Homo sapiens: one gene and its partner. The protein of the gene in region 1 interacts with the protein of each later gene in a biochemical or structural test. Each region holds a gene or a part of one and is shown on either strand. Other genes may lie near its edges.

Region 1 (3,500 bases):
CCTGCCTGGTGACCTACCAAGGAGGTGGGGAGGAGATGGCCTTGCCAGATGATGATGACGAGGAGGAAGAAGAGGAAGAAGAGGTGGAATTAGAGGAGGAAGAAGAGGAGGTTAAGGAGGAGGAAGAAGATGATGACTTAGAATATCTGTGGGAAACTGCCCAAATGTATCCACGGCCCAATATGAACCTGGGCTACCATCCCACCACATCCCCAGGCCACCACGGCTACATGCTCCTTGACCCAGTTAGGTCTTATCCTGGCCTAGCCCCTGGGGAACTTTTGACTCCTCAGAGTGACCAGCAAGAATCCGCCCCCAATAGTGATGAAGGTTATTATGACTCCACCACACCTGGATTTGAGGATGATTCAGGTGAGGCCCTGGGGCTTGTCCGCAGGGATTGTCTACCCCGAGACAGCTACAGTGGAGATGCCCTATATGAGTTCTATGAGCCAGATGACAGCCTTGAGAACTCTCCACCTGGAGATGACTGCCTTTATGACCTCCATGGTCGAAGCTCTGAGATGTTTGACCCCTTCTTAAACTTTGAGCCCTTTTTGTCCTCCCGGCCACCTGGGGCAATGGAGACAGAGGAAGAACGGCTAGTGACCATCCAGAAACAGTTGTTGTATTGGGAGCTTCGGCGGGAGCAGCTTGAGGCCCAGGAGGCACGTGCCCGAGAAGCTCATGCCAGGGAGGCCCACGCCAGGGAGGCCTATACTCGAGAGGCTTATGGCAGGGAAGCCTATGCCAGGGAGGCCCACACTTGGGAAGCTCATGGCAGGGAGGCCAGAACCCGAGAAGCCCAGGCCCGAGAGGTTCGTTGTAGAGAGACTCAAGTCCGAGAGACCCAGGCCCGGCAGGAGAAGCCCGTCTTAGAGTATCAGATGAGGCCCTTAGGCCCATCAGTGATGGGCCTGGCAGCAGGGGTATCAGGGACCTCTCAGATTTCCCACCGGGGAATTACCTCAGCTTTCCCCACCACTGCAAGCAGCGAGCCAGACTGGAGGGACTTCCGTCCTCTGGAGAAGCGTTATGAAGGAACCTGCTCCAAGAAAGATCAAAGTACCTGCCTGATGCAGCTCTTCCAGAGTGATGCCATGTTTGAGCCAGACATGCAAGAAGCAAATTTTGGAGGATCTCCCAGGAGGGCCTACCCTACTTATTCACCCCCTGAAGATCCAGAGGAAGAGGAGGTTGAGAAGGAAGGGAATGCCACTGTGAGTTTCTCACAGGCCCTGGTAGAGTTCACCAGCAATGGGAACCTCTTTTCCAGCATGTCCTGCAGCTCTGACTCTGACTCATCTTTCACTCAAAACCTCCCTGAGCTGCCTCCCATGGTGACCTTTGACATCGCTGATGTGGAACGGGATGGGGAAGGCAAGTGTGAAGAGAATCCTGAGTTCCACAATGATGAAGATCTTGCAGCCTCCTTGGAAGCCTTTGAGCTGGGCTACTATCACAAACATGCCTTCAACAACTACCATAGTCGATTCTACCAAGGCCTGCCCTGGGGTGTGAGCAGCCTCCCTCGATACTTGGGACTGCCTGGCCTGCACCCTCGACCTCCACCTGCTGCTATGGCCCTCAACAGGAGAAGCCGCTCTCTCGACACTGCAGAGACCCTGGAGATGGAGCTCTCCAATTCCCACTTGGTCCAGGGCTACCTCGAGTCTGATGAGCTGCAGGCCCAGCAGGAAGATTCAGATGAGGAGGACGAAGAGGAGGAAGAAGGAGAATGGAGCCGAGACAGTCCCCTTTCCCTCTATACTGAACCCCCAGGGGCCTATGATTGGCCTGCTTGGGCTCCCTGTCCTCTTCCAGTGGGGCCAGGTCCTGCCTGGATAAGCCCCAACCAGTTGGACAGGCCTTCCAGCCAGTCTCCATATAGGCAGGCAACCTGTTGCATACCTCCTATGACCATGTCAATATCACTATCAGTGCCAGAGTCAAGGGCACCTGGGGAATCTGGGCCTCAACTAGCTCGTCCCTCACACCTACACCTGCCCATGGGCCCTTGCTATAACCTCCAGCCACAGGCCTCCCAGAGCATGAGGGCCAGGCCTCGAGATGTGCTGCTGCCTGTTGATGAGCCCAGTTGCTCTTCCAGTTCTGGAGGCTTCAGCCCCAGCCCTCTACCACAGGCCAAGCCTGTGGGCATCACCCATGGCATTCCTCAGCTGCCCAGGGTCCGGCCTGAGCACCCCCAGCCTCAGCCCACTCACTATGGGCCTTCCAGCCTTGACCTGTCAAAGGAGAGGGCTGAGCAAGGTGCCTCTCTTGCCACCAGCTACTCCTCCACTGCCATGAATGGAAACCTAGCCAAGTAGTTATTATCAATTCTGGAGTAGGGACACGGGGCCTGAGCATGTGAATGGGGATCAGGGGTTGGGCAGAAGGGTGGGGGGGTGGGGGTTGTTGTTTAACTTGAAAACCCTTTGGGCCAAGGAAAACTCCTGTGAGTTTTCACCTTGGTTTTCCCACTTGCCTCTTCTGCCATCTATGGCCACGTTCAACTCAAGTGCATCTGCCCAGGGAGGCTGCTGCTGCTACTGCACTCCAGTTTTTGCTTTCGAGGTTTCTTCTTGTGACCCACGCTGGGTTTGGGATGCTGTAATTTTGTGCCTATTCCAGTTGCCAAGTTAGTGATTATATATATATATATATATATATATATATATATATATATATATACACACACACACACACACACACACACACACATACATACACACACACACACAAACACACATGCACACACATATATAGCATGCATCCTTGACACAGGCTAAACCTTTAGTGCCCCCTGCCCCTTTCCCCCAATGAATGATGAACCACTGATTAGCAGCCAAGTCTGCATTGCCTCCCGCTTGGGGAAGTGGGGCTTATTTGCTATTAGCAATGTGAAATTATGGTACAGATCCTCCCCACCCCTATTCCTTTTGGCCTGGCATAGCTGCCATCATTATATCAGATGACTATAAGCTATTCATCCCAGCTAGCTGTCCTTAGAGAGGATCAAGTAGCGTGTGTCTCACAGCCTATCGCTGTGGACTTTGGCATCATGACCAGATGGGGGCCTTTTAACTGTCCTGCCATAGCTTGGGTTAAAGACAAAAATGCTAATCCCCTTGATGGAGTGATAAAATTCATCCATTTGCAAACAGAAGACAAAACAAGGTTCTGTTGTGGACACTGCCATAGAGTGTTGAGCTCCGGAATGATAGGATTTTTTTTCCTTCTTTTAAGCTTGTGACTACCTGAGTTGCAGATGCTTTTGAATTTTTGTTCTTTTTTCCTCTAAAGGAAATTTTCATAATCTCATCACAAGGAACACGGTCTTTTAATTGAGATAAGGGAAGAGAAGCAACCTAAATTAGGCTTGACTATAGGGGCTGGGGTTTTTGTGGAGTGTAGGGGAAAGATAGAAAATGAGGGTCCATTTATCACAGCCAGCAAGAAAGGGGATTTCAGACCATGCAGAGCTTAAGGTATCTCAG
Region 2 (3,500 bases), on another chromosome or scaffold:
GATCTGAACTTGTTTGAGAAGATCTGGCCCCAGAATCTCTGGGAAGCTGGCCCTATACCTGCCTTTGAGATTCCCTGGAGTCATCCTGGAATTTAGAATGACTGCTCATGTACATGACAAGTTCATGACTGACCTCAGAGGTTGCCTTTATGGCCCAGGCCATCTCAGGAGACCTCTGTCTGGGACCTTCCTTGTCTAAAACAAAACCAGAATAGTTTAGTCCCTGCCTTTAATCTGTGTTTGTTAATCAACAGTCATCTACCCCTTGAGATCTGTGTGTGCTCAGCCCAAGCAGTGGGAACTGTAGGGGATGATGTGGGTGTGAGGTGTCGGTGCCAGGGACCCTGATGTCTTGTGGCGTCCAAGGAACTGTGTGTCACTGAGAGTGATCGGCCCCCACAGCAGTGTTCTTTCTACCTTCATGTTCCTTGTAATAATGCATCAGCAAGCTCGATCTGGGCCGTGAAGGGATGGATTGACACCATGAAGAGCCGCCACAAAGCTGCAGACAGGGGGACAGCAAGGCTGGCTTGTTCTAGGGCTGACCTGGACCCGAAGAAACTGGGGATAAAAAGAGAAAGGTCAAGGCAGTGCCCTTGGCGTCCTGTGGGCAGCCCAGTTTGCTCTTTTCTGGAGTATTTTCCAGAGGTGGAGAACAAGCAATTTTAGTTCTGTCAAGTTTAATTTACAGTATTCCAGGCCTAAGTGATCATTCCACTACTCTTGAGGAAAGGAGACTGACCCTGGCAAACACTGTGCTCACACATGCAAACCACCTATCCCGATCACTAACTGTCCTGCTGTTTGCTCATGCCAGCAAAAACCCGGGCAGCTGACTTGTTGGTGAATCCCCTGGATCCGCGGAATGCAGATAAAATTAGAGTAAAAATTGCTGACCTGGGAAATGCTTGTTGGGTGGTAAGTAGAGTTTTCTTTCTAAAACCTTTGGTCTTGATTCTGTGTGCGAAGACACTTTTTGAATGTCTGTGTTGCTCCGTGGTAATGCAGCCTGTTCCCTTCCAGCATAAACACTTCACGGAAGACATCCAGACGCGTCAGTACCGCTCCATAGAGGTTTTAATAGGAGCGGGGTACAGCACCCCTGCGGACATCTGGAGCACGGCGTGTATGGTAAGGACGGCTGTGCCCTTTGCTGCCATGGGAATTGGCTCGTTCCTTTCACACTCTGGATGGGGCTGAGTCTCTCTGAGGCATGCGACCTCAGTTTTTCTGACTGTAAGGGTCATCCACCGTGGGCTGGGTGAGGGGAAGGTTGCTGCCGCAGGCATCTTAAGAAGTGGAAGGATCCTCCTCAGGCGGGCCCTGGGTGTTTGGTGTGGTTGTGGGCTTGTGAGAGAGACATGGTCTCTTCTTAAGGCCCTGCACAGCCCACAGCCCCATGAATCAGACTCAGTTGTTGTGACACAGTGACTTCACTTGTGGTCCCTGAAAATGTGCAGGGTATAGGGAGCTTTTCCCTTCACTCACACTGTGGAGGAAGATGAGGTAGCATCTCCAGGGGAAGACTGCCTAAGGCGGGCAGGTGGGAGCCCCTCCAGGTAAGCCTCTGCCTGGTCAACCAGACATGCAGGGTTCCTCACCTTTCCAGACTGGAAGGGATTTCCCCAGATGCCAATGCATAATCTCTCTTCCCTTATAAAGCAAGAGCTAGCAGATATTCTGGCTTATTCTAGGATGTCTAGCCTCTTCTGAAACAGTGGCAGCAACGCCCACTCCCTCTGACAGAGTCTGTTCCCAGAGTGGTTGAGATGACGGCTTCCACAGGGCGGCAGAAGCCTCTTCTTCTATCTGTCAGGCCTGTTTTGCTGCTGGTTTTGTGCTGCACAGTTGCATTGTCTGTAAACTCCCCTGGCCCTGCCTGGCATCGTTTGGTCATTGACCCTGAACCTGTGAGTTGGTGAACACAAAGGGCCCTGCATTTGCGAGCCAGTTCCTGGTTCTCTTCCTCTGCCCTGTTTCCTGGCCCATTCAGCAGCTTTTTCTCAGTGGTATTTACTTAGGCGTTCCGTGTTGGGAAAGGTGGGTTGCTTGCTGTTGGGTTTCATGCTTTTCCTATTCCATACTGCTTTTTATCCATATTCTTCCAATATTTAAAAGAAAAGATTGTGTGCAAGGCTTAGCATTTTTCTTCTCACTGAAAAAAGGAATGCAGAATAAATATATTAATTTTCTGTTATTCAGAGGTTAATTTAACAATTTTCTTGAATTTACTGTGTTTTACCTCCTCTAATGCTCAAGTAAAAGCATTGTTGAGCAGATAGTGCCAGCTGATAGGAGAAAAAGAGGGTGCTTTCTGTCTTTCAGCTTTGACTCAGCATGATCTGAGTCAGCACATGGCCAGATAGGTCCTGAAACACCAGGCCTTTCTATTCCCTCGTTGCTCTTAAGGATAATACCAGACAATAACGTTTAAATTATTAAAGGTATTAAAGTTCTTCCATATCAAAAACCAAGTCCCTGCCTTAGCTAGGTATAGAAAAGAACGGTTAAAAGAACCGGTGGCCAATGATGGTCACTTTGAATTTAGAGAGTGCTGTGTGGAGAGGCATTTGACCCTCTCTGTGTGACCCCAGCAGGCAGACTGAGACGTGGGAGTTAGTGTAACGGGAGCTGCGGAGACACTGAGTGGGAGTCGGGGAGCAGGGGCCATTTCAGGATGTGGGGAGGTTAGACCACAATGGCCACTAGCAGCAGGGCTGCCCCGAATTAGGCGCTAAGTACTCTTTGAACTCTGAAATGCTGTGCTTCTAATTTGGGGTATTAAGTTTGGTGATATAACCAGAAAAATAGGACGCAGTCACGGATGTAGTGGGTTAATGGAGCTTTCAGCACAATTTTATACCAGGTTATCTGACCTGCCTTCCATTAGATGAACGTTTGTCCCTCCATACAATTTCCCTGTCCTGCTTACTTCTTGAAATGCTATTGCTGTGAACAGTGGCATAAATATCAATAACAGATTCCCAAGGAAAAGCCTTTCTGTCTTCTCACCTGCCCCCTTCCCAAGAATTAAGCATAAGCTCCCTCAGTGCTGTCAGGACGGCTTATGAGGTTTGCTTTTTCAGTTGGTTGTCATAAGGGAGGTTTTTTTTTTTTTGGAAAGGGGCAGGCCCTCATTCACTGCTTGCCCCACCCCCCAAAAGTCATGGCTTTAGAGGTTTCTTTTGTTCCTCCTAGAGAACCTAGGAGCAATGAGGCAGTTTTTCTTACCTCATCGTTCTGTTGTAGTGTAAAAATAGGACATTTAATATATTAAATTTGACCTCATAATACCAAGCTGTCATAAGGCCACAGATGGTTCTTGGTGGTAAAGCCTATATATAGTCTTTGAGGGTTTTGTTTGTTTGTTTGGAGACAAGGTCTTGCTCTGTTCCCCAAGCTGAAGTGCAGTGGCAGGACTATAGTTCACTGCAGACTCCACTTCCCAAGCTCAAGTGATCCTCCCACCTCAGCCTCTGGTGTAGCTGGGACTACAGGCA

The links. Proteins that work in one complex are often made in the same cells at the same time.
Region 2: of the proteins of AMER1 (region 1) and SRPK2, one has a biochemical effect on the other in vitro, tested with the Homo sapiens proteins (one large-scale study listed by BioGRID).

Annotation. Positions count from the first base shown.
Region 1 is NC_000023.11:64,188,709-64,192,208, reverse strand, and holds part of AMER1 (APC membrane recruitment protein 1), read left to right. Parts: coding exon 1-2,330; 3' UTR 2,331-3,500. UniProt on the Homo sapiens protein: Regulator of the canonical Wnt signaling pathway.
Region 2 is NC_000007.14:105,130,422-105,133,921, reverse strand, and holds part of SRPK2 (SRSF protein kinase 2), read left to right. Parts: exon of another isoform or gene 1-817; coding exon 818-918; exon of another isoform or gene 919-1,023; coding exon 1,024-1,131; exon of another isoform or gene 1,132-2,155; intron 2,156-3,500. UniProt on the Homo sapiens protein: Serine/arginine-rich protein-specific kinase which specifically phosphorylates its substrates at serine residues located in regions rich in arginine/serine dipeptides, known as RS domains and is involved in the phosphorylation of SR splicing factors and the regulation of splicing.